Homo sapiens: one gene and its partners. Changing the gene in region 6 together with the main gene of any one other region gives a genetic interaction. Each region holds a gene or a part of one and is shown on either strand. Other genes may lie near its edges. The genes, in order: PSMB6, CDCA8, NXF1, UBTF, GSPT1, KRAS and AAMP.

Region 1 (4,657 bases), on a different chromosome or scaffold from region 6:
ACAGTGGCTCATGCCTGTAATCCCAGCACACTGGTAGGCTGAGGCAGGAGAATCACTTAAGCCCAGGAGTTTGAGGTTACAGTGAGCTATGACAGTGACACTGCTGCCTGGATGACAGAGCGAGACTCTGTCTCTAAAAAATACATAATAATAAAATTAGCCTGAGGTGAGGTGACACACACCTGTAGTCCCAGCTATCGAGCTCCTTTATGTCCCTGGCTTGAGTGGGGACAGCTTCGGAAGGGCCAGAGTCTATTTTCAGCCTCTCATCCAAGAGGTTGATCACACCCCCTACCATGGGAATGGTGGCTTCCAGAGCTGGCCAAACCACTCCCAGTGGTTTTGTTCTCCCACTCATCATTCATCTTAAATTCCATTTGCAGACAAGGCCCACCTTTCTCCCAAAAGCCAAGGAAGTCACAGTGCTACTGCTGACCACAAGGTGAGGTAACAGAGGTTAAGTGTGGAGAGAGGGGACCATGAGGCTGGGCTGGAGGAGGCTGGTCTTTGTGGCCTTAGGGACAGTAGTCACCCAGGATGACTGGCAGGAAGCAGGCTGAAGGAAGGTGACTCCAGTTTTAGTCAGAATTCCGAGTTCCACCTTGGGCTTGAACAGGGAGTGGGTGTTGCTGGTACCCCCAACACCAACCACAATCCAGTGGTTCAAGGACCTGGATATGGTGGGGGAAAGGAAGTTTGGGGGAAGGCAATTTGGAGAAGAGGTTTGAAAACCACCCATGTAAAAGTTTACTGGGGAATAAAGCATTCATAAACTCCTTTCATCTCCTCTCCAACTTGCTCTGAGTTCAGTGCAATGGTTTTTACAAATAGGAATGGGCCAGACAAATTCGGACTTGAAGTCAAAAAAAAAAGAACCCCAAAGTACAAAGATTCTCTGTGACAAACTTTATTAAATTTTGCATCAGTACAGGGCATCTCTTATTGCATACTAGAATCCCAGGATTCAGGCGGGTGGTAAAGTGGCAACGGCGAATTTGGGTATCTGGTCTCCCAAAAGTACTTGCCGCTCTACCCCTGACTCTGCAATGGCTGCCAGGCGGATCACTCCTCCACTGGAGCCATCCCGCTCCATGGCCAAAGCGAGAGCTGTGGATAAAAGAAGAAAGCTGGGTTCAGATTCAGATGCCGGGATCACTGCAAGGAATGAGGAATGCTGGCCTGGCTTGGGTAGTTGGGGTTGAAGCTCATAGGCCCAGAAGCCTAAGCTCTCACCATTGGCAGTGAATTGCAGACACTCTTCCTTGGTCATGCCTTCCCGGTAGGTAGCATCAACATAGCCATAGATGTAGGAGCTCCCGGAGCCTCCAATGGCAAAGGACTGCCTTACCATCATACCCCCCATAGGCACTGAGTACACCTGCCAGATAGAAGGAGAGGAGTCACCAGTCGTATCCTCCCTCCAACACACGTACATTCACCTGTCCATTCTGCTATTGGTCTGAGGCACGTTAATAGTAAGAATAAGTGAGGTAGAGACTGGAAAGAAAAAGAAAATGGCTGGGGAGAGGATAAAAGTCCTGGCTCAAGTGTGCTCTGGTCGGGTGGGGATCTGACCTGCCCTCCTTCTTGAGGGTCCCAGCCTGCGATGATGATTCCCGCCATCAGGTCTTCCCGGTATCGGTAACACATCTCCTTAAAGAGGCTGGCTGCTGTGTGGACCAGTGGAGGCTCATTCAGTTCAATGCTAGAGGGTCAGGGAAGTCACAGAGAAAGTTTCAAGACCTAGAAGTCAGGCTATTTAGCTCCTCAGCTTCCAACTCCCTTCAGATACTTGCCCCTCCCCTGCCCACAAGCACCTGTGGAAACCGAGCTGGTAGGTGACAGCATCAGCTACTGCCTGGGTATCAGCAGCTGAGCCTGAGCGACAGCAGAAAATGCGGTCGTGAATAGGTGTCAGCTTGTCAGTCACTCGATTGGCGATGTAGGACCTGCAGGATGGCAGAATAGTGAGGAAAGGAGCCCACCTGTCTTCCACCTCCATCCCATCACTACCCACTCTCTTAGGGCTCAGGGATAGGATGTCCAGTATTGCCTTTTTTTCCTTTTTCTTTGAGATGGAGTCTCGCTCTGTTGCCCAGGCTGGAGTACAGTGACGCGATCTCTGCTCACTGCAACATCCACCTCCTGGGTCCAAGCGATTCTCTAGCCCTAGCCTCCCAAGTAGCTGGGACTGCAGGCACGCACCGCCACGCACGGCTAATTTTTGTATTTTTTAGTAGAGACGGGGTTTCGCCATGTTGGCCAGGCTGGTCTCGAACTCCTGACCTCAGGTGATCCACCCGCCTCGGCCTCCCAAAGTACTGGGATTACAGGCGTGAGCCACCGTGCCTGGCCTCCAGTATTGCTTATTCTCATCCAAACTGAAGCGGGCTGGAGAACAGACTTTTGTAAGGATTCCACTAACGAGTGAGGGGAACTGAAAGTAACAAAAGTTGGGACAAATCTTTATCTCCAGAGAGAGAAGAAACCTCTCTTCCCACAGTGGTCTGTGGAGGCAGGCAGGGTGGGCTGGCAGGCAGGAAAGGAAAAGGAAGATGGGAAGACCTTTCACAAATCTGTCCTGAGCTCACCCAGTGGTTGTTCTGGAGTCCGCCCCCAGAACCACGCCCCCGTCAAACTGCACGGCCATGATAGTGGTCTGGGAAAAGGGAAAAAGGAGTAAGTCTACATTCTCCAGCAGACACAAACCTCAATGATCTCTCTACCTAGTTCCAAAAATACAAAATCTGTCCGTCGCTGAACCATTTTCAAATCTTATAGGGGCCTCAGCACCCCGCAGAATACCAGAATGCCAACCCTCAAATCTCAAAAGACTCATCCCGTACTTAAGCCCAAGATCCTCACTAGCCTCGCAGGATTTCAGAATTTCAAACTTCAGCCCACCCTCCACCTCCCACTACGAAGCTACCGCACCACTCCACCATCTTCGGGGTACCTCTCCCCATTCCTGGAGCACAACACATTCCACCTCCTCTCCACCCCTGCCAGATCTCTCAACCCCACTCAGGCTTTATCTTCCCATCGCGTCAGGCCTTGTGCACGTCCTATGAACCCCGATTCCTTCCTCACCCCAGTGGAAACTTCTCGGCTTTCCCAGTCTGGAGTGAACGCCTCCGGCCCCCAAGCCGGTGCTGGCCCGGCTCCCCGAGCAGCTAGTAAGGTAGCCGCCATCTTTCTCCTCCGGTACTGCCTCAAAGCAACTGTCGTAAAGCGCTCTGTCACGCTCTTTGGTCGCGCTTTGAGGCCTTCTGGGAGCGAAGCTACTCCGAGGTTGACGGCAGAAGGGAAAAGAAAAGTACAGTACTGCATGGGGACGGTTCTTTTGCGACAGTGAGCACTTGATGGCAGCGTGGCAAGCAACAAACAAAACAAGAAAGTCAGCAAAACCCCCCCCCCAAAAAACCAAAAAAAACCCAAAAACCGTTCGGCACTTTGGGAGGCTGAGGCGGGCGGATCATGAGGTTAGGAGTTCAAGACCAGCCTGGCCAACATGGTGAAACTCCTTCTCTACTAAAAAATACAAAAATTAGCCGGGCGTGGTGGGGCGCGCCTGTAATCCCGGCTACTGGGGAGGCTGAGGCAGGAGAATCGCTTGAGCCTGGGAGGCGGAGGTTACAGTGAGCCGAGATCACGCCACTGCACTCCAGCCTGAGCGACAGAGCAAGACTGTCTCAAAACAAAAGCAAAAACAAAACAAAACAAAAAACAGTCCTAGTGGCTTGCGCCGTACCGATCTTATGGAGTTACAGTCCAAAGGGCCCACAAAATAAACCTGAGAGTCTTTGGGCTAAAGTGACCACACCATGTTTTCATTTCTTTTAGTTATATACTTAGGAGTATATGCTGGCAGAGGAATTTATGGGTTCTATGATAACTGTATGTTTAACATTTTGAGCAACCGACAAACTGTTTTCCACAGAAACTGCACCATTTTACATCCCTACAAGCCATGTGTGAGGGTTCCAATTTCTCCACATCCTCACCAACACTTGTTATTGTGCATTTTTTTAGTTATAGCCATTCCAGTGGGTGTGAAGTGGTACCCTGTGGTTTTCATTGGTATTTTTCTAATGATTAGTGATGCTGAGCATATTTCCATGAGATAATTGGCCATTTGTATGTCTTTTTTGATGCAATGTTTTTTCAAGTTCTTTGCACATTCTAAAATTGGGATATGTCTTTTGTTTAATATATTTTTGGGGTTTAATTTTTTTTTTTTGAGACGAGGGTGGGGTGTGTGTGTGGGGTGGGTTTGTCTTGCGGTGTTTCCCAGGCTGGAGTGCAGATGGGATCATGGTGCACTATATCAGCCTCGAACTCCTGGGCTCCAGTGATCCTCCCGCCTCAGCTTCTCAAGTAGCTGGGACTACAGGTGTGTGCCACTGAACCCAGCTCTATTTGTCTTTTTTTTTTTTTTTTTTTTTTTTTGAGACGGAGTCTCGCTCTGTCGCCCAGGCGGGACTGCGGACTGCAGTGGCGCAATCTCGGCTCACTGCAAGCTCCGCTTCCCGGGTTCACGCCATTCTCCTGCCTCAGCCTCCCGAGTAGCTGGGACTACAGGCGCCCGCCACCGCGCCCGGCTAATTTTTTTTGTATTTTTAGTAGAGACGGGGTTTCACCTTGTTAGCCAGGATGG
Region 2 (4,165 bases), on a different chromosome or scaffold from region 6:
AATCTTGTCATCTATTTAACCCAGGAGAAAGTAAGCAGGCAACAATGTTTGGTTTCTAGCACAGCTTTTTTCCCCCCTTTTTTCACTTTCATTTTAGCTCGCACACGGGTCTTGAGTTTGGTTTTTAGCAGTCCTGCCTAAAATTAACTAAATTTCTGGTTTGAATTGCTGTTCGGGGGAAAAAAAATTAACTAAATGCACCATCCAAAAGCAAGTTTTTGGATTTACAAGATTAAGAACCAGACATTAAAGGGAAGAGGCTCTACCAACAAGGCGCTGCCTGAGCAGCCAACCAAGCAACCTGAGCCTCAGTTCTTTCTGTACAACAAGGAGTTTTGAAAGGTACTCACTTTTGGCAGATTTCAGGGGTGTCTGAATAGCTTCTGCTGTTAGTTTGTTTATTTCGGTGATATCCAGGTCAGCCTATGACAAACATAGCCAGAAAGCACCAGGCTTATTCCACCAAAATATGAGGAACAATATTTCAAGATAAAAACTTTTTTAAAACTATTATTTAATACATAAGACTGTTAAATGTTAGTGATACAATATACAATATAGCAAACTCCCATAAACCCACCACACAGCCCAAGACCTAAAACATTGCCAATAACTTGCTTCTGGCTCTGTATTCATTCCTTGTTCCATTTTCTTATCTCTTCTTCCAAAGGTGATGAGTCTCCTAATCCTTCATTCCCCAGGGGTAACCATATCATTGCACTTGCTTTATCGAAAGGTACATGTGTATGTGCTCACAGATACATGCATATGTGTGTATACATGTGTGCACACACAGATGTGCTTTTTCACAAGTGTGTACTTAAGCATTTTGTTTGGTTTTGGCTGTTTTCACCACTCTTTGTGGTTGTAGTTAATTTGTTTTCATTGCTATATCATATCCCACTGTGTGAATATACCACAATGGATTTGTCCATCTTCCATCAATAGTTTCCTGCTATTATAAACACTGCTACCTTGAACTGTCTTACATGTGTCTGAGGTACATGTCCAAGTTTCCCCTTGGCTCTATCCTTTGGATAGGACATGACAGGGATTATAGGTTACATAAATATTCAGCCTTCGCATTATGCCAAATTGTTTCCCAAAGTGGTTACCCTTGACTACAGCCCATCTGCAAACAATACAAGTTCCTAATGATCTACATCCTCTACAACACTTGGTGGTGTGTCAAGCTTACCATTTTTTCGATAAATCTACAGGGTCTCAATAAGGTTTTCTATGATGATCCTGGGTCCTTCAAAAAGGCTTCCAGTCACCATTCAAATTCGTTTTTTTTTCATATGGTAATAAGTATGGGCACTACAAAGAGCAGTCATGATTCACAGTCCTTTCCTTATAGAACACATGTAAACATCAGAATAATTACTACAGGTTTGGAATGGCACAGGTTTCATTTCTGGTAGGGACTGCTTGACATACTCAGAGAAGGATTCTGAGGCTGTCTTAGGCTTAGCAAGAAATAGGGCTGTAATAAGTTACTGATGTTTGCCAGGCTTGATGCAACAGAAAGTAGGGGCATTCCTGCCAACCTTCTGCCATCTCTAGAAACAACTGGCATTTTATGGAGTCATCAGTGGTGGCAGGCCACTGGGCATCTACTGTGCAGGACAGTTAACAGAGCAGGCCTGAGACTGATACACATAGAAAGGCCTGTTTGCAAGCCTGGCCTCGGTTGGCATCTGGGAACTTGATTTCAGAAAGATTCCCACCTTTCCTTAACAAGATGCCTCACTGTGCCTAAACTTTATGCAAACAATATGGCTCATGCTGAACACCTACTTCCCTCCTGAAAGTCTAGGATTTTGACATGTGCTAGGCAGAGGATGCCTATGTGAGCAGCCCCCAGTTAAAACTCTGGGCATTGACTCTCTAATCAGATTTTCTGGTAGACAGCATTTCATATGTGTTGAATTAAGCATGTTCTGTTTGACTCTACAGGGAGTGGACTCCTAGAAGCCTGGTTTCCTCTGGACTTTGTCCTATGCAATTTTCTCCTTTGTTGATTAATGCTTTGTATACTTTCACTGTAATAAATCATCGCCATGGGTGTGACTGTATGCTGAGCCCCATGAATCCTCCTAGTGAATCACCAAACCTGGAGGTGGTCTTGGGAGCCCCAACACACTTCCCAACTAAGAGCTTTTATAGATTTTCTATCGTTCCTTTCTGGAGTTTTAAATCATATTAGTCAAGGCTAGAATTCTCTCAACTTGGTGTGGTAACAATGGCTCTCTCATATTACATTAGAAGTTCTCATTTGCAGTTCTGTATTTCTAATTTAAAAAGAGAGAACTGCATTAGCTAGTAAGCATAATTCATCTCAGAGGTAACTCTTTTAAAACATTGGAGCTCAGTGTATGTAGGGGGGTGAATAATCCCCACCTCTCTCCCAAATGCTCCAATTTTTTCCAAATTGATAATTGGCTCCTCATTACCTTTACCTTCTGAATGAAGCTGGCGGAGATCTGCTATGTGCCCTTGGTGGTCAGACTCCTTCAAACCCTGATATTCCAAATGATTCTGATCAACTCAACAAAAGATGTAATTTTGGGGTTTACTTTGTAAATCTGATCAAGGCTACAATAAACTAACAGAAAGATACACAAATGCGTGCATACACACGCATTGTTTGTATATTATTTTAGAGTGCCTAGGGACTCTGTGAAGCCCATGTATGGACTAGTTCCCAATGCTGTCTCATAAAACTTTCTGCAAGAGTAGCAATGTTCTATTTCTGTGCTCTCTGATGGAGTAGCTACTAGTCATATGTAGGTATTGAACATGTAAAATGTGGCTAGTATGTCTGAGGAAATGAATTCTTTAATTTTATTAATTGTAATTAACTGAAATAGCTACATATGCCCAGTGGCTACTACACTGGACAGTGCAGCTTTAAATGCTCTATTTTGCATCCCCATCTTACTGCCTTCAATCCTGGCACTGATGCTGGGAGGAAGGAGATGAGAGGGGTTGGGGAATACTGAGCATCCCAAGCAAAAGCACTGCTTCTACAGTACGACATGATGAAACACCTTTATCATCTAGCAGGCCAATGCATAGTGTAATGACTCAGGCGCTTAAAGGAACTTGGGCTTGAGGCTTTCTACTTCCGCTGTAGAGTTCAGAACAAAGGACTGCAAGAAATTGGTCAAAAACAGAACTGCCACCTTCTGTAGGGCTCAGAACTATCTGGGTCTCATGTATACAGTGTCTGGTCCAACTCTAATTTTTCAGTTGACACAAACAGATGATGTCCCTTTATGAAACCTCTTCCACAGTAAGCATCTATTAGTTGGATCTGGGGACTGGACTAGACTTAAGTAACCACTGGCTGGAAAATAGGAAAGGTCACTTACTGTTGCCGCCTCTTCCAGGGCCTGTTTGTTTCCTCCAAGGGCTTTAAAAAGAACGTTGTAGTTACTATTACATTTTAACAATAAATCATCTTGCCTAATAGTACCATTTATCTTTCTAAAACTGGTCCAGCCCTTGGTCTAACCTTCAAGGACCTTCACCATCTAATCTATTCTTTCTCCAAGTTATATCCCAAATGTGCCACTGACTCTCATGACTTGTTGCCATGGTACTTTGTATTTCCTCTGCCTGAAATTCACCTCCGTACTTAACAAATTTCTAACTCATCCTTCAAAACTCAGCTCAAACATCACCCCAAAAATTCTGCTTATTTTTCTTTTTAAAAAATATATTTTAAATTTTATTTATTTTTGAGACAGAGTCTTGCTCTGTCACCCAAGCTGGAGTGGAGTGGCGCCTCCTTGGCTGTCTCCTGGGCTCAACTGATCCTCCCACCTTGGCCTCCCAAGTAGCTGGGACTACAGGCATGCGCCACCACATTCGGCTAATTTTTGTGTTTTTTTGTAGAGATAGGGTTTCGCCAAGTTGTCCAGGTTGTCTTTTTTTTTTTTTTTTTTTTTTTTAAGTAGAGATGTGGTCTCCTGCTATGTTGCCCAGGCTGGTTTTGAACTCCTGGGGTCAAGTGATACTCCTGCCTTGGCCTCCCAAAGTGCTAGGATTATAGGCATGAATCCCCACCCTATGCCCTGCCCTCTGCTTATTTTTCTTTTTTAAAAATTTATTTTTAATTATTTTTTTTAAAGCTTAAAGATATGGTCTTGTTATGTTG
Region 3 (4,165 bases), on a different chromosome or scaffold from region 6:
TACAGAAAATTTTAAAATTAGCCGGGCATGGTAGTACATGCCTGTAGTCCTAGCTACTCCAGAAAGCTGAGACAGGAGGATCGCTTGAGCCTAGGAAATGAAGGCTGCAGTGAGCTATGATCGCACCACTGCACTCCAGCCTGAGTGACAGAGTGAGGCCCTGTTACTAAGAAAAAATAGTAAGTGTAAGTAGACAGAAAGGAGTTAAAGAATCTATGTGTATCTCAAGTAGAAAACCTAGTACTGGTCCTTTCTTTAGATAGTCTTTAAAAGTTTGGTAGAAGGTATAAAAGGCATTGTATTGGGTCTGCTATTCAGCCTTACTTATCATTCCCTTCTTTTCTCTTTCTCTCATTTCTAGATTCCTTATGGCAGAAAGTATGACAAGGCATGGCTCCTGAGCATGATTCAGAGCAAGTGCAGTGTGCCCTTCACCCCTATTGAGGTAAGACAAGGCCTGAGTGGCTGGCTGGCCAGGCACCAGGGATGGTGAAGGGGCAAGCTGGACTCCCAGCGTAATGCCCCTCCCCAAGGGCTCTGGACTCCCAGTGTAATGCTCCTGTTTCCTCTTGTAGTTTCACTATGAGAATACACGGGCCCAGTTCTTCGTTGAAGACGCCAGTACTGCCTCTGCATTGAAGGCTGTCAACTATAAGATTTTGGATCGGGAGAACCGAAGGGTGTGTTTAAAGGGCCTGGCTTGGCTGGAGGTGGAGGTTGGTGCTCAGAGCAGGGACTGGGTCTTGTTCTTGCGGCTTAGGCTTCCCTAGAGTTTTCTGTGCCCTCTGTGTCTTCCCTCCAGATATCTATCATCATCAACTCTTCTGCTCCACCCCACACTATACTGAATGAACTGAAGCCAGAACAAGTAGAACAGCTAAAGGTGAGGCAGGCTCAAATTAGATGTTTCCAACCCAGTCTTACTACTTCTCACACCCCCACCCCCCACACACAAACCCAGTGACCACTAAACCCTTCTTTTTCCTCTAGCTGATCATGAGCAAACGATACGATGGCTCCCAACAAGCCCTTGACCTCAAAGGCCTCCGTTCAGACCCAGGTATGGTTGACAGCAGTAGTTCTCAGATAGGTGGTGATAAGGTGGGATCTGTCAGGGAGGGAAAGTTTGAGGATGTTTTACTGCTAATGCTGGCATGGGCAAACCCTCTCAGTCTTCCCTTTCCTTCCCTTCTGCTTCCTGAAGATTTGGTGGCCCAGAACATTGACGTTGTCCTGAATCGCAGAAGCTGTATGGCAGCTACCCTGAGGATCATTGAAGAGAACATCCCTGAGGTAAGGCCTTTGGCCCAGTATTAGGCATGAGGAAGCAGGGTGTGTTAGATAGGAAGTGGCTGGAGGGCAGATTCGTCTCTGATCCACTTGCTGGTGGTGCCTCCTCTAAACTCTTCTCTCCTCACAGCTATTGTCCTTGAACTTGAGCAACAACAGGCTGTACAGGCTGGATGACATGTCTAGCATTGTTCAGAAGGCACCCAACCTGAAGATCCTAAACCTTTCTGGAAATGAAGTGAGAATTGATAGCTCGGCTATATTTTTGAAGGGGTGGGTAGAGGGTGTAGAGAGTTTGTCCAGTGATGGCAAGAGGCAAGAGAGAGAACTCAGGCCAGATGTGCTGGTTTGCAACTCTAATCCTAACACTTTGGGAGGCCAAGGCAGGAGGATCACTTAAGGCTAGGAGTTTGCACGCCTCTAGTCCAAGCTGCCCCAGGGGGCTGAGGTGGGAGGATTGCTTGAGCTCAGGAGTTCAAGGCTGCAGTGAGTTATGATTGTGCCGTTGCATTCTAGCCTGAGCAACCTGTCTCAAAAAAATTTTTTTAATTTAAAAAATAAATTAGTCGAGCATGATGTCACATGCCTGTAGTCCTAGCTACCCAGGAGTCTGAGGTGGGAGGATCTCTTGAGTCCAGGAGTTTGAGGCTGCAGTGAACTATGATCATGCCACGGCACTGAACTTGGGTGACAGAGTGAGACCCTGTCCCAAAAAAAAAAAAAAAAGAAAAAATTTTAAAAGATTAGAAAAGATCTCAGAGCTAAGCGTAGGGACTGGGGGTATGGGGAGCCAGCTGGCTGTCTTCACCAGGGTCTCCTCCCTTTGTTCCTTCCACCCTTTGCAGTTGAAGTCTGAGCGGGAATTGGACAAGATAAAGGGGCTGAAGCTAGAAGAGCTCTGGCTCGATGGAAACTCCCTGTGTGACACCTTCCGAGACCAGTCCACCTACATCAGGTCAGTTGTAGCCTGTGTCTCCCCTCCTGGGGACCTTCACCCCCTGGGAGGCTGAGCTAATGCATCCTGACCAGGGCCCGTCTGCGGAGATGTGCAGCCCTGAGCTGGAACCACCTGTCCTTTGAGAGGATCGCGTGCTCCCCACTTTGGTCTGTCTGTGTCTTCCAGCTTTGTCCTGAGATGTTCTCTCTTCTCTTCTGACTTGACTATCTGTTTGCTGGGTCTGTGGCCTTTCTCTTTCTTCCTGAACACAACCTTTTCTAGAATCTCCCTACCCTGTTGTTCCAGGAAAGGCATCTCCCCTTTCTACTCTAACCAGAGGGTATCTTGTACATACCCTATAGATGGGGTTGCCTTGTGCCAAGAGCCTGGTGTCCATGGGTTGAGGAAGCCCTCCCTACCTGGGACTTCCTACTGAGATGGGCCTTCCCTCCTTTGTACTGTGATGGCCCCTCTTGCCCTTGCGCCAAGAGGGACCCTTTTCTCAGGATCCACTTGCCCAGGGCTGTTGCTGTCCATGCTGAGGTTGAGGCCTCCTAGGGGCTGGTGGCATGCAATCTGTCTCTCTTGCCCAGTGCTATGAGCTGGGCTCTCCCTGAAGAAGAAACCTGGGTTCCCCAAGATGTGACCAGAGCTGGGGCCCCGCCAGCAGGCGAGGGAATCCCAAGGCAGGTGCTGGGCGTGGAGGCCACGGGGGCATAGGCTACCAAGGAGACAGAGAACTGACCCCCTCGGGGGCGCTGCCTCTCCCTCACTCACACACTGCACGTCACCCTGTTTGGCCCCGGTGGATGGCTGGTTAGCCAGAGACGGGTAAGATTCCTCAGGGAAGGAACAACCTAAGACAGGCACAGTCGCAGAGGGGCCATCAGGAGAGAACTTGGGGGCAACAGAGGTGGGGCATGGACCCTCACCCCCACAATCCTACAGGGGCCTGAACCCTCACACCTTCTGAGGGAGGTCTCCTGCCCCCATGGCTGCTTTGCTTCCCACGCCCAGTTCAGATCGGGACCCAGGTAGCAGACAGAGACCTGGCCAACAGCAAGTGCCCACTCACCACAGCAAGGATTTGTTTCTCATTTCTACCTTGGACCACAGGGATGGGGCAGCTGAAAGAAAGGGCTGTGTCAGGGTGTCTTTCTCCCTTTTCTCCCTCATTTTTCTAGATGCTTTTTTGCCTTGTAGTTCTTTCTCTTTTTCTTTGCTTTCTCTTTCCTTTTTCTGTCTGTCTCCTATACCTCCCCATCTCTCCCTTGCCCCTGCCCCATCTTGCCTTTTTCTCTTTTTCCTCCTTTTCCTTTCTTATTCCTTTGCCTCTCCTCTTCCTGAGCCCCACCTGCTCATCTCCCTGCCCCAACATCCTGTGCCATCCCTGTGGTGTGTTTGGGTCTTGGCCAAAGCCAGACCTGGCAGAACTGATGGATACCTGGTGAGGCAGCGGAGCCCCTGGGCTCCCACCCCATTCCCTCCTCCCGGGGCTGCACAGGTGAGTAGGTGGAAGGTAAGGGGGGCAGGGAGGGGAAAGAGGTCCTGGGCTTAAAGCCTGGGCTTGGAGTACTGCTCCTTGACACTCAGGGTCAGGCAGAGAGAAAAGAGACAGCCTTCAAGGCAGTCCATGTCTGGGTGCCCCGGGTCAGGTGGGGAGTGGGGGCCATTTTTCCCTGAGCACAGGCTGGGAGGGAGTGGAGGGATGAGCAGGATGGGATGGGCTGTCCCTCGGGTTTGGTATATTTGCTCCTAGAGCAGCCCAGGAGGCACGGTGGCTCTGAAGCATCACTCACTTCTGTCCCGTTCTTGACAGCGCCATTCGCGAACGATTTCCCAAGTTACTACGCCTGGTAAGTCCATAATTTTTTCATTCTAACAAGCACAGCATCTCTCACTCACAAGGATTCCTGGATAGGTTTCTTTTTCTTTTTC
Region 4 (4,165 bases), on a different chromosome or scaffold from region 6:
CGCACGCACACACGCACACGCTTGCACGCCAGCTGGCCCGGGCCCTGTCCATGCAGCCCACCCCTGGGGAGGGGCCTCCTCTCCTGCTCCCCTGCACCGTGCCCGGCCGACCTGGCGCGGCTCCCCCCTGGCCACCGCCGTGCATCCTCCACCCCCAACCCTTGGCCGGACACTCACATCTGGCCGCACTTTGAGATACACCTTCTTCTCGTGGGTGTACCACAGCTGCTGGGGGGTTTTGGGCTTCTCTGGGATGTCCGATTTCTTGGCATTCTGGATTAGGTCGGGGTGATCCTCCCTAGCCAGGACACGGGGAGCAAGGATCAGCAGGGGACGCTGCCAGGGCAGACTCAAGCTAGCTGCCCCACCCACCAAGCCTCCTGGGCCTTTCAGCTGGGGCTCAGTGGGACGGTGGCTGCCTGCCTGTCTCTGTCCCTGAGCATGACACACTAGGGCTCACATGTGACCCATCCTCTTCCATGCCTCAGAGATGGCAAACTCAAGGCTCTGGCCAGGGTTAGCCTATTCTGCTGCCCCCAGTGCCCCGTGGCCCTCCTCTGGGCTCCACTGCCTTACCTGAATCGGGCCAGGTTTCGCTCGAACTCCTGTTTCTCTCTCTGGAAGTCCTGAATATATTTCATCTGGGGGGAGGAGGGGATGGGGTCACTCAGGACCCAAGGGTATCTCACCCTGAGCTATGAAGGCCACCCAGACCCCTCCTCGCTGGCTCTTCTGCCTCCCACGCTGTGATGCAGGGAGTGGAGGCTGGCGCCCTGCCCGCCTCCTGGCGGGACTCACCACAGAGCAGACCTGCTGGCTTCTACCACAGATGGTGGGAGCTGCAGGGGTCGCCCAGACACTGAATCCTACATCCTATTCTCTCCTTCTGAGCAAGAGTCCCAGAAGGGGGCCATGGCATTACCCACGGTCACACAGTGCGCAGTGGCAGCGCTGAGCCTCCCCCACTCGTTTCTCCAACACCATAGAACTCTCACAGTGGCGTCGGGTGCAGGCCTTGCTCCTGTCACTCCCTCTTCTCACTGTCTGTGGCAGCTGACATTAGTCTGTCCCCTTGTACGTAGCCTCTACATCTATGGCCAGGGCTGGGCTGAGTCCTGTTTCCAAGGCATGAGGGGAGATTGTGTGGAGGGGAACCCAGAGCGAGTTCTTCCAATACAAGTCTCAGCCAGCTACCCTGCATCTTCCTGCCCAGTTCTCACACCATCACCTTCTTCTCTTTCTCCAGGATCCTGGCTGTCTGGCCCCTCCAGCCCTCCCTCCCTCAGCCCACTCATTCTTTCCCACCACTTGGCTTCCCTTCCCTTCATCACCCCCTTTTTAGCCTCCCCACTCTCACCTCACTCCCTCCCTGCATCTTTCCCCACTTCTCCATAGTCTCCTTCTTGTTCCTCCTTTCCAATGTGTCTCTTTCTCTTCCTCATCGACCTTCTCTCTTGGCTCCCACACAATGTCCATCTCTTCTTTCATCCTCGCGGGCTCACAAGAGTGGCACTGGCAGGTGCCAGGAGCTCATGGCAACTGAGCCCAACCCCTGCCTCTTATAGAAGCACCAGGCATAGAAAGGCAGTGCTCCTTTCCCACAGTTCCCACAGAAAACCAGAAGCAGAGCTCAGCCTCCTCTTCCCCCATCTCAGTCCTCCTCAGACAAAACAGTTTTAGACCTGAAGGGGACCACACAGACCTGGCTCACCTCACATAAAGACCAGGCCCACAGAAGTGAAATGACTTACCAAAGGCCCCATACACAGCGGTTCAGTGGCAGAGCCAGGAGAACAGGCCCAAGTCTTGTGTCCCCCAGGACAGCACCTTGTCCACTCTACCAGTTTCTTCTGGCCTTCCCTGGCTCTGACTCTAGAGCTTGGCCTCTCCCTCCCATCCCATGAGAGTGTTTGGGTGTGTGCAGTCAACTGTCCAACATCCTCATCAAAGGGGTCAACAGTTCCAGCAATCCATACCCCTCTCTGCTTGGGCAGTGGTTGCAGACAGCTGGCTTTTTTGGGTACAGCACCAAGGGCATGTGAGTCTGCAGCCAGGGTATGCCAACCAGGAAAAAGGGCTACTCATAGCATGGCAGCGGCCAGTGCCCCCTTTTGAGAACTGGCTGTGTATGACTTTGTTTCCTCTCCAAGCAGATGTGCTTCTTGTCTTTCCTGCTGCCCTTCCCCATCTATCCCTGGCTCTGTCTCCTTGTCCCGTGTCTCTTCTTTGTGTCCTCTGTCCCCATCCCATCTTCCTCGTGTCCCATCTGCAGGCTCCTCCAATGTTTTGCTGCCTATCTCTGGGAGGGACCTCCTGAGCTCTGTGACTGAGCCCTGCCTGGGAGGCTTAGGCAACCCTCCACCCAGAGTTAATGCTTTGATGGTCTGGGACAGTGCCCGACCTCTGCAAGGAACAGTATGAGGCCAGGAGGGACAATGTGTGTCCTTGAGTGAACACGTGTGCGTGGAGAAGTGCACTTCACAGGTGGACGTGGCAGTAACAGCACTGGACTGGGACTCTGGGGCACTAAATCCTGCTCTAGCATCAATAGTTGTGTCACCCGGGACACTTAACCCTCCTGCACCTCAGTTCCTTGCCCACAAAACTGGGATAACCTTTTCCTAGGGTTACCTTTATAAAGACATTGCAAGTATCAAATGAGACCATGACGGGAAACGTCATAGAGGGTGAAGAAGTGCTGCGGAGCCTAACAGTGAGGATGGGTGTATGGGGGAGAGAGAGCTTGAAACAGAATGCTGTGGGTTTTCTGTAGGGGGAAAGGTTGGTCTGAGCACCTGCTGTCTGGTTTACATCTGTGATGGTGCCTGTGCCTGACCATGTGTGGGCCGAGGAAGGGGCAATCAGGTGTGGCTGCCCAGGACCTATTCTGCTGTGCTGACTCACCCTCATCCCTGATGCCAGGTTTCTCCAAGGCCTACCTCCAACTGACCCACACCACACCAGCTGCTCCCAGCCTCTCCCCTCCTCCCACCTTAACTCTCCTCCCCCCACCTTCTTCTTCTCCGGAAGCTCCTTGTATTTCTTGGACAGAATCTTGGTTAGGTCCAGGTTGCTCATCTCAGGGTGGAGTTTCGCATACTTGGCCCGCTTCTCCATGAAGAAGCGGAAATAAGGGGTCAGGGGCTTCTTTGGGAAGTCTGGGTGTTTCTGGAAGAAGGGACAAGGACACAATGGAGGTCAAATACATCCCTTCTTTGGACCTTTCCTCCCATACCCCTCATGCTCCTCCTCCTAGTAACTCACCTTGAGTTTTTTGCCTTTGTAAGGATTTTTAACATGTTCCTGAGCATCGAGGATCAATTCTGTCAATGTACGGAACTTCCTCACCTGGAGGAAGAGGGGTGGGAGGAAGGGGAAGTTGGGAAAAGGAAAATGCCACACAGTAGTATACCCCCATCTTATAACGGGTCTCTTCTACTCTTTACTAGACTAAATTTACCAAAGAAGAGCAGAGGCCAACAGCCAAATGAAGCAGGCAGCATGACACCCAGGCACTGGCCCATGCCTACCGCAGAGGCCCAGGCAGTCAGTACACACCAAAGGCCAGCAACAAGGGGACTAACTGACCTCAACCTGGTTGTCCATGCTAACACCTCCGTCAATCTCAGCATGCTAGCACCTCCGTCAATCTCAGCACAGCTCAGGCTGTTTGGCTCAAGACCACTCAGATAGAAAGTGGCATAACTTTAAGCCAGTGCTGTCAACCGTGCCACCTCCCAAAATGCAAAGGGGCAGGTAGAGAGCTAACGGGAGACCACATGAATGCCTCTCCTGGTCTCTTTCCTTCCTGTTTACAGCCTGTTTCACTTCCCCCACCACGCTGAGTGGGGGGTATGTGTGTATGTCAGAAAAGGGGGATCAGTTACCTCATTAGAAATCTCCACCCATTTGAGCTTGCACATGTCTCCAGAAAAGTCTTTAAATGCTACTTTTTCCCAGTCCATGTGTGATTCGGTGGTTTTGAACTTGGAGCTGTCATTGGATGGAAGGTTGTTCTTCATGCATTCCAGCAAAGTCAGCATGTCTTCCTGGGACCAACGGTCTGGTAAAGAGTAACAGAGGCCATCATGCCTGGCTCATGCTATCCCCCCGATCTGTTCCCCAGTTCTTGAGTGCTCAACTCTTCCTCCCTAGGGCATCCCAG
Region 5 (3,994 bases), on a different chromosome or scaffold from region 6:
CCAGGCTGGAGTGCTGTGGCGCAATCTCGGCTCACTGCAGGCTCCGCCTCCCAGGTTCACGCCATTGTCCTGCCTCAGCCTCCCAAGTAGCTGGGACTACAGGCCACGCCCGGCTAATTTTTTGTATTTTTAGTAGAGACGGGGTTTCACCGTGTTAGCCAGGATGGTCTCGATCTCCTGACACCGTGATCCACCCACCTCGGCCTCCCAAAAAGTGCTGGCATTACAGGCACACGCCTCCACGCCCAGCTAATTTTTGTGTTTTTTAGCAGAGACTGGGTTTCACCACGTTGGCCAGGCTGGTCTGGAACTCCTGACCTCAAGTGATCTGCCCGCCTCAGCCTCCCAAAGTGCTGGGATTACAGGCATGAGTCACCGTGCCTGGCCTGAACCCCTACTTTAATAGCAAGCTTGGTCCCAAGTTTTAAGCTATGATTGGTTTAATGCCAAATACCTAGAGGCTGACTGCCAAAACCTCAAAGCGATTCACCTAAAGACAGTTCAAACAGGAACTTAGTACACAGGAATGAACTGCTGTCATTCAAGTAGCCACTGTGTATGTTACCTTTATCATTAACTTCTTCTTGCCCTTGCACATTGAATGAAAAGGGCAAGCACTATTTGGTCTCTTGATCTTTATTAAAAATCCTGAATGTAGAGGTTCATAGTTCTAATAATAATTGACGTTTCCCCCAACTCTACTGTTCACATAAAACCACATAACTGTGATCTAGTTATTTATTATTCAGCATCCCTAACTTCCTATAGGGTTCTTATTTTTGTTTCCTAAGGTTGTCGTATACATTATACAAAAGACTTGCATGCCATATGCAAGCAGATGACGTTTGTGAATCCCTTATGTGACAGAGCTTATTAGATCCATCCAACAAACCTTTTGGTAGATGGTTCCAGTACCTGATACAAAAATAAAAGGATTGTACAAAAAAGGGCATGGTTTTTGCTTGTTACAACACAGGTAATTACAAACGACAAATCCTTCAAAAGGGAAGATGACAACTTTTATTGTTATTACAAAAGCAAATTTAATTTGTCATTTGAATAATTGCAAGAGCAGACTAAGGGCTTAATCCTCACACAGGCACCAAGTCAGGCACAGTAGGTAGCTACAAATCGTAAGAAAAAGCTTTCTTTCCTACCTAGAGCACTCTTCCATGCTTTGGAATTAGGCTAAAAAACTCAACAAACCTGATCAGTTCCCTTTAATCCTGTTTTTTTTTTTTTTTTTTAAATGAGATCTAGGTATTAACCTGCTGTCTAGCGAAAACTAGTCACTAAGTCCTGGCCTGAGAGATACCCACATTTCCTTTAGAACAAACAGAACTAATACCTGTGTACATTTCTGAGAGCCTGATGTGTGAGTCCTTAAAATGTAGACCTTGCAGGAGGCTTAGACCTCAGTTTCACCTAATGCATGTGGAGGAAATGGAGGTGAGAATAGTCACCTGAAGAGTGCAAGCGCTCCAGCTCCAGCACACACACTCTTCCCTGGGCAGCAGGAAAAGGAGGTAACAAGGACTTGGGCTGACATCTGAAGCACTAAGCTAATGTGCCTGGTAGAGGGGAGCCTCAGGAAGCACAAGATGTCATTCCACCTGTGCTGTCCACAAACCTGAGGTTTCCACATCGTTTTAAAGGGCACAGTGGCAAATGTGACAAGGCAGAAAACAATAACCATTTCAAGGATCACTTAAGGAATCCTGGTGTTTTCTGCCTAATCAGAAGTAGTACCAACCTGCTTTTCCCTTATATTGGAGAACATAAAGGTTTTAATTAATCTCCACTCCCACACCTTCAGGCCCTTATAATAATCCTTAGTAAACAACTCAGCTAGCATTATTGTTTCAAGGAAGCATAGGATTAGAGGTATGTGAGAAGTGTATTTATTGAAGGGAAGACTCAGTAAGTTCTAGGATATTAAAGTCAAGAATATCCTAGAGCCAAAAACCACCAAAAGTTGAACCAAATCTACCTGAACTGAACTGATAGTAAACTGGGTCAAATGGAATCCACGGAATTACTACTGGAAAATAAAAACACTTCCTATTCTTTCTATTCCTATTCATTTACTATGAAACCTAATCTAACCAACTGACTGCTAAATGTAAAGCTAGTTAAGTCTTTTGTGCATGTGCAATTACACTTACTTAACAAGATGCTGCCATGGCGAGATCTCTCACGAAAGAAACAAGATCAAGGATGTACTAGATGGCATCTGCTAGAATCACTGAAAAAGTTAGCTGCAAGAAATAAAAGCCTATTATTTGGAGATAGATAATTGTCCCCTGAATCCACTGGTTGTTCTCTTCCTTACCTATGTCTGTGAAAGGATTAATGGCACAGTTTGATAAGGTAAGCCAACAATGAATATAACATTTAACCATCCTAAAATCAGAGCTATAGTGCTATAACCACATTTTTCACAAAGGGTTTTAAAGTTGAAAGTTGCCTGATGTTAAGACCTGTAATAAAACTGCGTATTTTCCCCTTGACTACCTTAAATCCCTACCCAAAGCAATGAAGCTATCATCCATGAAGTAGCAGTCCATGAGGAAGTCCATGCCAGTAAGAAAAGGTGCTAGAGTGCTGTTATGTGTAATAGTCATCAAAGATCACGGAGTAATTCCAGTCATTACTAGTGTTCCTGCAGATCGCCAAGGGAGCTTAGCTGATTTTTTTCCAGGTTCATCTTGGGAGCAGTTTTTGATCATAGGTTCAACTTTTTTCTTGGGTTGCAAAACTGCATCTGGCTGCAAGTCTAACCCAAAATATTCGCAGCGTATCAGCTGAGAGGATGCCGGCAACTGTTGAACTACATCACAGTTCAAAGTCCCATATTGTGAGAGCAGTACTTGTAGTTTATGTAACCAGCAAATATGAGTTACCTCGTTACAGTGAACAACCTGCACTGTTAGAGTTTAGGAACTTTTGACATTCGGTTATCACATATTTCAAAGATTTTCAACTCACAAAAAAAAAATACATGGGCTTAATTACTCAGTAACACTTTACTATTTGTCACTTAATCTCAAGACAATACACACTCAGTCCAACTCTTTTGGTTTGATTTTACATAGATTTTCACTTACTTCTGCAAATTAAAAACAAGAAATGAGTGCTGTATTTCCCCCTCTCCCACAGTAAGAAACAAGGGTTTAAAATGGCAATTACTTAGATGTTTATTTCAATATTTCTTAAATTCACTTTATTAATTTAAAAAACTAAATAATCGCATGAAAGTTATATAAAGAACATCATTAATGTGAAAAGATGCAAGAAAAAAATCATTCTAGTAGAGCAACGTTAGAGAACAAATGCTTAGGTAATACCCTAAATATGCAGCCAACTACCCTATTTTTGCACTGTTGACCATATAAGCACGTTTGCATTTGCAGAAAACAGAATGACAGCATAGGAATTTGTATTGCTCTATAACGGTCCAACATCTCCACATAATGCCAAGTTCACCTTAGACATTTTATTTACTTATCCAAATGAACAGCCTGTGTAAGCAGGATTGAAAATGCATCAACTTTAAAAAGATGAGAACAATTTTCAAAGCCCATAGAACTTATGTTGCTGGTTAATTTTAGCACTGAAATTTCTTTTGAATAATCTAATCTTGCAAATATGCAAGAATCCAGTGGAATTTTTACAGTTACATTTGTATTTGTATGACCTGTTACTTTTTAGAGGTAGGCCCTTCACAGTTGATATCCAAGTTACTTAAGAGTCTTGGCAACATGCACATAATAGTCTAACAGTGTAAATGTTTTAGTAGCAAACATAACTTATTTTTTAAAAATGTGTTCTATTTAGAAAGGGAACTCTTATCTCTGGAAGTGATTTCCGTGGCTCTTGAACTTTTAAATATTCATTAAAATTCAAGCAATTGCTAGTATTTGTTTTTATTAACATGGAATTACAAAAAGAACTATTATGTTTTGATTAAAGCTCCTATATTTTCCAGAAAAAT
Region 6 (4,165 bases):
CTCAACATATCTGCAGATAACTTTTTTTTCCCCTAAATTCATCTAAATTACCTATCATTATCCCAAACAGGCACTTCAAACTATTAAACTAAAACACAGATCTTAATCTAGTTATGACTATTCTTCAAGAACTCATGTGAGTATCTTTCTTTAGAAAGAAAGTTTCATTTTATGACAGCTATTCAGTTTCTCAATGCAGAATTCATGCTATCCAGTATTAACACAGAAGTTACTAAATATAAATTCAGCTTTAAGGTAACTGCTGGGTTCTAAAAAACATTACTACACAATTATCAAGAAATCATTACTTTTTGACAAATGGAAATCTTCAGATAGTTTTTGCTGTCTAAAAAAAAATCCCCTAAAAAAAGTTATATACTGTTTGAAGAAAAAATGTTTAGAAGAAAAAAAAAATCAATGGAATACAAATGAGATGAACTTGTGCAAACTGTAACTTAACATGCCCCACAAAGTTTCTATGTATATATTAGGACAAAATTGTGCAATGGTGACAACAGTTTTGATAACCTATAAAAGTTAGGTTCTAAATTCCTATGCAGTGTGACTCAGTTAAATAGAGCCTAGAATGCCTACTTGGGAACATTCACTCAAATGATACAATATACGTCTGCTATATTCTTCCACAAACATGTTAATGCCTAAGTCTATGTAATTTAGCTTTTTTTAAAAAAACTTCAACAAGGATTTTTGTCTTTAAGGCTGTAATAATTAGGTAACATTTATTTCTAGAATTCTCCCCCTTTAAAATCTCTACAAAAACAAATCTTTTGTTAAACCATTCAAAGTTCACATAAAGGTAATTAACCACTACCTTAAAAAAATGCCCATCTACATCAAAAATTCAAGAGGCCTAAATATCCCCTCATAAGCACTGCAGTTCCTGAAGTATGGCCATTTCTTTCTCTGTGTAGAAACGAGGTACTGTGTAAGTCTTAACACCCTACCTAAACAGTGTTCCAAAGATCTGTAGTTTCACATAGCAATTCAGAAATCATAGTGATTTTTACATAGAAGTTTCCTTGTCTGTGAACTAGTTCAGGCACCTGTTTATTTGTACCCAGATAAAACTATTAATTTTTAAGTATATTTTAATTACTTATGCAGAGAAAACTGGAATATTACACATTTGGGTCAATATGAATATCTGACATACACCTTAATGTGTACAGTAATTGTCCTAAAAGAATCACAGTTATGCCAAATAAAAAAACAATATAATCAAGTTTATTCCTTTAAAACAATGAAGTGATTTACATAAAGTAGCTTGATCGAAGAGTTTCAGTGGAATCGTAGCAAAACAATTATAGAGCTGGCACAGAGACCAAACCCCTTCTTTGCAAAACTAAAATACGCATCGTGTTATCTCTGGGTCGTATACCAAAGGCCTTAGTAAGATATTACAGACCACACTAGCACTACCTAAGGACCGGGATTATGTCTCTTGTTTGGGGATACCATATACCCAGTGCCTTGTGTGGTGACTGGCATCTGGTAGGCACTCAATAAATATTTGCTGAATAAATGAGTTCTGCAAAACAGGTTTATGAGGCCAAGGTGGGTGAATCACTTGAGGTCAGGAGTTCGAGACCAGCCTGGCCAACAGGGTGAAACCCCGTCTCTCCTAAAAATACAAAAATTAGTTGAGTGTAGTGGCACACGCCTGTAATCCCAGCTACTCAGGAGGCCGAGGCACGAGAATCGCTTGAACCTGGGAGATGGAGGTTGCAGTGAGCTGAGATGGCGCCACTGCATTCCAGCCTGGGTGACAAGAGCGAGACTCTGACACCAAAAAAAAAAAGTAAGCTTCATGAATTAAAGTATTTTTCATTGCATGAAGATTTCTGGTTACTAAAACAATGGAATGTATTACTGTTACCAGGAGTAGTCCTAGTTATAGATTACCTAAGGAATTCTTTCAGCACTATCTTTATTAAATTCTCCTTCCACTGGATAGGGTTCTGTCTATTCATACCAGGTTTGAAAAATCCTACTGTCGCTAATGGATTGGGCAGCAAAGAGATGTTCAAAGCATCAGCCACCACCTGAAAATTAGTGATTAGGTCAAATCCCTTTATGGTATCTGTCAGATTCTCTTGAGCCCTGAGGAAATAAGATGTAGGGCATTTCTGATGTGACTCAGTGGGAAAACTTCATGGAGATATCCACAGCAGCAGTAAATCTTATGGTTAGGGGAATTACAAGTATTAAAACTGCATCAAGTCATGGGGCATGTGGAAGGTAGGGAGGCAAGATGACACTAATATGGAAGAAGAGTCCTAAAACGAGAATGGATATTCAAATATAAACTTCACCTCTTGCACAATTTTGCCCAAGACTGGCACTGAAGATGGTGTAACATAGGTTAAAAATTTACAGATTGTGCTGAGCTTGACAAATAAGTGTATCCTTATGTAAATGGAATATAAATTACATAGTTGTAAAAAAAAAAAACTAAGAGTTTGAGATGACTTCTTTTAACATGAAGAAATGGATAGTAAGTGATGTCCTCAAAATCAGAGTCCTAAAAGACACCTATCTAGAACCTAAGTCACCTTCTTCCTAGTCCAGTGATACTTTCACCTCACCATGCCATCTCACTTCATTTATTTTAAAATAAGTAACATTTTAAATTTATCAAAAGGATTGTTTTTATTTTTATTTTAAAGCATTATTAAATATGGATCAGACTTGAAAAGTGTTTATGCAATGTTAATTTAACCAGTGTTAAGAGAACTAGCCAAACCTAGAGATTGTAAAACTTTTTCACTTCATTGTTTAAAAAAAAAATTAATGTCTTGGCACACCACCACCCCAAAATCTCAACTTTTGAGTTAATATTTAAAAGTAATTTTTAAAAAAGAGTTTGTTTTCTTAAGAAACAAAAGCAATGCTCTTGATTTGTCAGCAGGACCACCACAGAGTGAGATTGTATCTTGTTGAGCTATCCAAACTGCCCTAGTCCCTCCCCATTTTGACTAACCAATGCATGACAACACTGGATGACCGTGGGGACACAGTCCATGCTGTGAAACTCTCTATGAAAGCTCAAAGGTTCACACAGGGCCTGGCCTTGCAACCTTGGTCTCTTCAACACCTAATAAGCTATAACTGGCCCAAATAATCTTTTAATGTCACAAGCAGAATTAAAACTATCTTCAAAGACTCAAGTTGAAGAAAAGATTTAAAGTTATACTATGAAAGAGCAGTCTGACACAGGGAGACTACATTTAATTCCTATGAGAATTTTTTATACTTGTTAAAATCTTTTCAATTATTATAAAAATTTAGTAGCATGTAAATATAGCCCCAAAATGGTTGCTATAATAATCCCCATTTCATACTGGGTCTGCCTTAACAGGAAAAGCTATTAGGAGTCTTTATAGTAATTTATCTAATGTGAAAAGGAAATGGCCTTATAATAGTTTCCATTGCCTTGTAATTTTTTTCCATTTTTTTCTTTTTATAGAAAAAATATAATATTTTGGGGAGAGTGACCATGACTAATAGCAGTGGAAAGGAGACAAAACCTTTGTGAACAGTGTAACTTTACATTCATCAGGGATGACAAACTATAGGACATGATGCCTAGAAGAATCATCATCAGGAAGCCCATAAATTTGTGTTCCCTCAATGTTTCAGTAAAAACCAATTAGAAGGTCTCAACTGAAATTAGTAATTAATCCATTTATGTGACTAGATAAAACACAGAATAGGGATGATTCAAAAGCTTCATTAATTTGTTTCACACCAACATTCACAATTGGTAAGAAAAATAAGAAGTAATCAACTGCATGCACCAAAAGCCCCAAGACAGAAATCTTAGGTATTCAGTTTCTTTTTCACAGGCATTGCTAGTTCAAAAACCAAAACTCTGGGAATACTGGCACTTAGAGGAAAAAAAAACTTCCACTGTCATTTTAAAATAAGCATTTAAGGTAAAAGCTAACAGTCTGCATGGAGCAGGAAAAAAATTAGGTAATGCTAAAACAAATGCTAATAATTTAGTGTAATGTACAAAAATTACCACTTGTACTAGTATGCCTTAAGAAAAAAGTACAAATTGTATTTACATAATTACACACTTTGTCTTTGACTTCTTTTTCTTCTTTTTACCATCTTTGCTCATCTTTTCTTTATGTTTTCG
Region 7 (4,174 bases), on a different chromosome or scaffold from region 6:
AGGGCAGCCGCCCAAAGGTGCCTGCAGGGGCTGTGGGGAAGAGCCTCCCGGGACAGTCCCGGCCCCAGCATTGCCTACCACCCAAGCAGCCAAAGCAGTGTCGACCTGGACTTGAACTAAAGGAAGGGCCTCTGCTGACTCCTACCAGAGCATCCGTCCAGCTCAGCCATCCAGCCTGTCTCTACCGGGCCCCACTTCTCTGGATCAGAGACCCTGCCTCTGTTTGACCCCGCACTGACTGAATAAAGCTCCTCTGGCCGTTTATGATTATCTCATTCCATATCTCAGGGCGAGGCAGGAGGAAATGGCTCAACACACCAACAATAGAAAGAACCTACAGACATACGCGTGGATTAAGGCAGAGTCCGACTCCAGGCAGGCAAGAAGTGTCGTGCGCACAGACCACCCCTGGAGATGGGGAGCTGGCACATCTCAACATCCAGCCGATTCTGCGGGACAGCCTTGCCCTGACGGGGCCCTCGCTAGCTCCTCCTAGGGTCCAGCCATCACAAAATCCACACAGACTCTGTCTCTGGGAAGTATATTTTATTTACATTTTTAAAATCTTTAACTAGTATCTCTTCCTCCTTTCCACCCCCAGAGACTTGGGAAGGGAAAGAACGGGAACCTCAAACACCTACTCCCCACATACAAATACACACCCCATGGCTCACACCAGCAAATGAAAGTGAAAGAGAAACAGGTCCACCCCTCCCTCTGAAGGGCCCACCAGGTCTGGACAAGGGTGGGAGGGCCCTGGGCTGGGTCTCTAAAGAGAAGAAAAGGAGAGGGGAGCAAGTCAGTTGAAGAGGCTGGAAAGTCATCCAGGGCCCCACCCTCCTCTTCCCTCTGTGCCCTACTGCCTCTGCTGGCAGACAGGGGCAGGGGTCCCTTCGTCCCCTCAACACCAGACACACAGGCAGGGGCTGCAGCCATTAACGGTCAGGCCTTTGGACACAAAATACTTTCGCTTTGTGGTCTCCTGACGTGGTCACCACCAGGGAGGCATCTCTGTAAACAGAAAGCATGTGATTGCAGAGACTGGGGGACCCAAGCCCACCACCTAGGGGCCCTAGGGTGGGCTCCTCCAGCACACCCTCAGTTCTAGGGCCCTAGTGCCTAGCACTGGGCCGACATCTCTGCAGCCAGCATGGAGGGGATTAGAGGAAGCCCCCAGCACGGGAGAAGCAGAGCTGACTCCGATGGGGAAAATCAGTCTCAGCCTCTCCCTCATGACTGAGACGTGGGGCCCCGGAGGGTCACTGTCAGCCACTGGAATGGGGGCTGGGCTGTGAACCCTCAGGCTTCTCTGCATTCCTGCCTTAGGAATCCCTTCCCACACCCCAAGGATCCTGTGTCCCCTACATACTACTGCCACCTTCCAAATACACAAAGATCCCAGCCCTTGGCCAATTCACTTACTTGCTGAGGGCAAAGTCCAGGATCTCAGCCGTGTGGCCCCGGTAGTCAGTAAGCAGGCGGCCGGTCCGGGCGTCCCAGAGGCGCACGATGCCATCCAGGCTGCAGGTATATACCACGGCAGTGCCTGCCTCCCACAGCAGCTGCACGATGCCCGACTGCCCCGAGGAATGACAGAGGCAGGGCGGAGGTTGGCAGGAGAGCTGAGAGCCATCTGCTCCCAATTCTCAAAGAGGGACAGCCACACACAAGGGCCAGGCAGGAGCCAGATCTGGGGTAGATGCTCCTGGAGGCCTGGGCTTCCCCACCACTATGGACACAGCCCACAGGGACCCCAGCTCCAGCTGCCCATACCTGGTGCTGACACTGATGCCTAAGAGTCTGCGTAGCCAGGTCATAGATGGCCAAGGTCCCATCCAGGTAGCCAACAGCTGCCAGGGGCATCCTGGCCAGAGGAGCGTACCATGAAGACTCATGAGGGCCTGGACTCACACGCCCTGCCGTCCTCCCGGGCCCCCAGCCCAGGCCCCTCCCACAAACCCCTTTCCCCATCCTCACTCACACACTGCAGAAGCCCAAGGACTCCACCGAGTTGGACTCACTCTCCTCCCCTTCTCCCAGGCTGGGCTGGGAGGCCACAGTCTCAGGTCTAAAAACACCCACCACCTGAAAGCCAGAGAGGATCAGAGGAGGACACGGAATCCGGGTGCTTGATGGAGAGAAAGACGGTGGGGAGAGGAGACAGTGAAGACCCAGGAAGGAAGGAGAGGAGTCGGGAAAGCGGAGGCCCCAGCCGGGCTCCAGGTCCACTCACCTTGCCGGTGGTGGCACTGACCAGCTTGGCCTGGCAGTCCACAGAGCCAGTTAGGATCAAGCTGCCATCCTGGTTGGCAGCAACACAGGTGAGTGGGCCCTGGTGACCCTCAGTCCCTAGCATAGAGCAGGGAGGCAGCTCAGGCTTCGTCCTACCTCCCCTCTGAGTCCTGCCCCAGGTTCTCAGCCCCTCCCTACAAAGGCCCAGGCTAACACTTCCCCCACCTCTGATACCTTTCAGTACATGGATAGGGCTTCCCTGCTTCAGGTCCCAAATCCTGATGGTCCCATCTTCATAGCCTACCACAGCTCTCTTCCCTGAAGAGAGGCACAGATGAAGAGAGGGCAGAGGGCACGCTCACATACACTAAGCAAGGGAATGGGGAGAGGGAGAGGAAAGAAGAGTGGAAGGGCCCAGACACTGCCCCAGGAATCACAGGTGAGTTCAGAGCAGGAAGGAGGCGCTGTGAACTTTGGGGCCCAGGAGGTCAGCACTGCAAACAGCAGGCCTCAGATTTTGCCGGCTGTGACCCAGAAGGCTGCTCTGGGAGGTGTATATCCCGGGATTCGGCCTCTGCACCCAGGAAAGGTCACTCAAGGGAGGTGCTCTCACCATCAGGGAGGACTCGGCCACAGGTGGCTGGGCAGTTGGGACCCTGGAAGGTCTTGCAGTCACCATTCGGGACTTTCCACATCCAGGTGTTGCCGTCAGCTGTGCCCGCCAACAGGACAGGTGCCCGAGGATGCCACTCCATCCACTGGACAGGGAGGAAGGGGCAGCAGGGAGGCCCGTCACCCCATCCCACCTAGAAGCCTGCCCCATGAGCTCCACCCAAGGTTTCCTGCCTCTGGGGTTCCGCGGGGACTTTCCAGGTAGCAGGTAGATATTCTTCCTGTGCCTTGGGGCGCATTGGCTCAGAGCTGGCTTGGCGCAATAAAGGCAGAACTGGCCTCCCAAGCTTGCACCCCCAACAACCCAAGGCCCCACAGAGCTGACTCCCGCTCTGATGATCTTACCTCCAGGTCTCCCGCTTCAAAGGACCAGACCTCCTCCTTAGTGTCCACCTGCCACACTTTCAAGAGGCCACTCATGTCCCCTGTGGCCACTAGAGTGGAGTCATGGCTGAAACCAGCACAAGTCACAGAGTCTTTATGGCCTTCAAAGAAAAGTGGGCAGAAAACAGAGGAAAAAAATAGGGTACCTGGTGCTGGGGGCATGTGATTCTGGTATCTGGCCCACTGAAAGGACCAGCTAGGAAAAAAAGAGGGGCGGGACTGAGCAGAACAGGTGCTGGAACTCACCACCACTCTAGGAACCAATACTCCCATGTCTGCTGGGAGACACTGCTGGCCCTCACTCAACCAGACCAAGTCCCAGCCTCCTATGCCTTCCCCCTTCTGTCCACTCTACACCTCTGCCCGCCTGCTCCTATACCAATGTGGCCTTCTCTGGCCTTTCCTGGATTCCCTTGGCCAATTAGTGCCTCCTGCCTCTGTGCCCAAAACACACTAGTATTCGCCCCGTGTCCCTGGGGCCCAGCACAGAGCTGGCACAAAAGAGATGTCACTAAGTGGCTGTTGGATGCACAACCTCTGCAGGTCAGCCTCCTAAGATCTCCCAAAAGAATATGACCTCTCCCAGGCCTCTACCCCAGCCCCCTCACCTGCACACTCAAAGAGCAGCTCCCCATCGCTGAGCCGCCATACGAAGGCTTTGTCATCTTCACCCCCGGTCACTGCCAAGGTATTGGTCTTGGGGTCCAGGCTCACACAAAACACAGATGCTGTCCCAAGAGATATTCCATGGGTAAGGGGACAGAGCTCCCACCTAGGGCTCTGTCCTTCACAATCTTCAGGAAACCCACCCCCTTTCACCCAAAGCGTGTCTTTCCTCCTGGAAAACACAGGTACATCCAAGTTCTTCTAAGTTTCAAGAATTGGG

What was found.
Region 1: changes in KRAS (region 6) and PSMB6 are lethal when combined (synthetic lethality), as found in Homo sapiens cells (3 studies listed by BioGRID, with this or other methods).
Region 2: changes in KRAS (region 6) and CDCA8 are lethal when combined (synthetic lethality), as found in Homo sapiens cells (3 studies listed by BioGRID, with this or other methods).
Region 3: changes in KRAS (region 6) and NXF1 are lethal when combined (synthetic lethality), as found in Homo sapiens cells (2 studies listed by BioGRID, with this or other methods).
Region 4: changes in KRAS (region 6) and UBTF are lethal when combined (synthetic lethality), as found in Homo sapiens cells (2 studies listed by BioGRID, with this or other methods).
Region 5: changes in KRAS (region 6) and GSPT1 are lethal when combined (synthetic lethality), as found in Homo sapiens cells (3 studies listed by BioGRID, with this or other methods).
Region 7: changes in KRAS (region 6) and AAMP are lethal when combined (synthetic lethality), as found in Homo sapiens cells (2 studies listed by BioGRID, with this or other methods).

The regions. Positions count from the first base shown.
Region 1 is NC_000017.11:4,794,730-4,799,386, reverse strand, and holds PSMB6 (proteasome subunit beta type-6), read right to left. Parts: upstream 3,224-4,657; 5' UTR 3,193-3,223; coding exon 3,091-3,192; intron 2,660-3,090; coding exon 2,592-2,659; intron 1,950-2,591; coding exon 1,818-1,949; intron 1,706-1,817; coding exon 1,576-1,705; intron 1,379-1,575; coding exon 1,234-1,378; intron 1,128-1,233; coding exon of another isoform or gene 1,108-1,127; coding exon 965-1,107; 3' UTR 892-964; downstream 1-891. UniProt on the Homo sapiens protein: Component of the 20S core proteasome complex involved in the proteolytic degradation of most intracellular proteins. This complex plays numerous essential roles within the cell by associating with different regulatory particles.
Region 2 is NC_000001.11:37,695,163-37,699,327, reverse strand, and holds part of CDCA8 (borealin), read right to left. Parts: intron 3,419-4,165; coding exon 3,378-3,418; intron 424-3,377; coding exon 351-423; intron 1-350.
Region 3 is NC_000011.10:62,798,457-62,802,621, reverse strand, and holds part of NXF1 (nuclear RNA export factor 1), read left to right. Parts: intron 1-361; coding exon 362-445; intron 446-575; coding exon 576-680; intron 681-802; coding exon 803-883; intron 884-990; coding exon 991-1,060; intron 1,061-1,204; coding exon 1,205-1,293; intron 1,294-1,420; coding exon 1,421-1,528; intron 1,529-2,135; coding exon 2,136-2,245; coding exon of another isoform or gene 2,246-2,300; exon of another isoform or gene 2,301-4,046; coding exon 4,047-4,083; intron 4,084-4,165.
Region 4 is NC_000017.11:44,212,642-44,216,806, forward strand, and holds part of UBTF (nucleolar transcription factor 1), read right to left. Parts: intron 4,064-4,165; coding exon 3,888-4,063; intron 3,349-3,887; coding exon 3,265-3,348; intron 3,169-3,264; coding exon 3,013-3,168; intron 642-3,012; coding exon 577-641; intron 299-576; coding exon 178-298; intron 1-177. UniProt on the Homo sapiens protein: Recognizes the ribosomal RNA gene promoter and activates transcription mediated by RNA polymerase I (Pol I) through cooperative interactions with the transcription factor SL1/TIF-IB complex.
Region 5 is NC_000016.10:11,867,131-11,871,124, forward strand, and holds the end of GSPT1 (eukaryotic peptide chain release factor GTP-binding subunit ERF3A), read right to left. Parts: 3' UTR 998-3,994; downstream 1-997. UniProt on the Homo sapiens protein: GTPase component of the eRF1-eRF3-GTP ternary complex, a ternary complex that mediates translation termination in response to the termination codons UAA, UAG and UGA.
Region 6 is NC_000012.12:25,205,708-25,209,872, forward strand, and holds part of KRAS (GTPase KRas), read right to left. Parts: coding exon 4,088-4,165; 3' UTR 1-4,087. UniProt on the Homo sapiens protein: Ras proteins bind GDP/GTP and possess intrinsic GTPase activity. Plays an important role in the regulation of cell proliferation.
Region 7 is NC_000002.12:218,263,598-218,267,771, forward strand, and holds the end of AAMP (angio-associated migratory cell protein), read right to left. Parts: intron 4,017-4,174; coding exon 3,897-4,016; intron 3,390-3,896; coding exon 3,250-3,389; intron 2,991-3,249; coding exon 2,846-2,990; intron 2,551-2,845; coding exon 2,467-2,550; intron 2,350-2,466; coding exon 2,234-2,349; intron 2,086-2,233; coding exon 1,982-2,085; intron 1,865-1,981; coding exon 1,774-1,864; intron 1,578-1,773; coding exon 1,423-1,577; intron 1,012-1,422; coding exon 936-1,011; 3' UTR 532-935; downstream 1-531. Other genes in the region: GPBAR1 (G-protein coupled bile acid receptor 1), read left to right, coding at 1-120. UniProt on the Homo sapiens protein: Plays a role in angiogenesis and cell migration. In smooth muscle cell migration, may act through the RhoA pathway.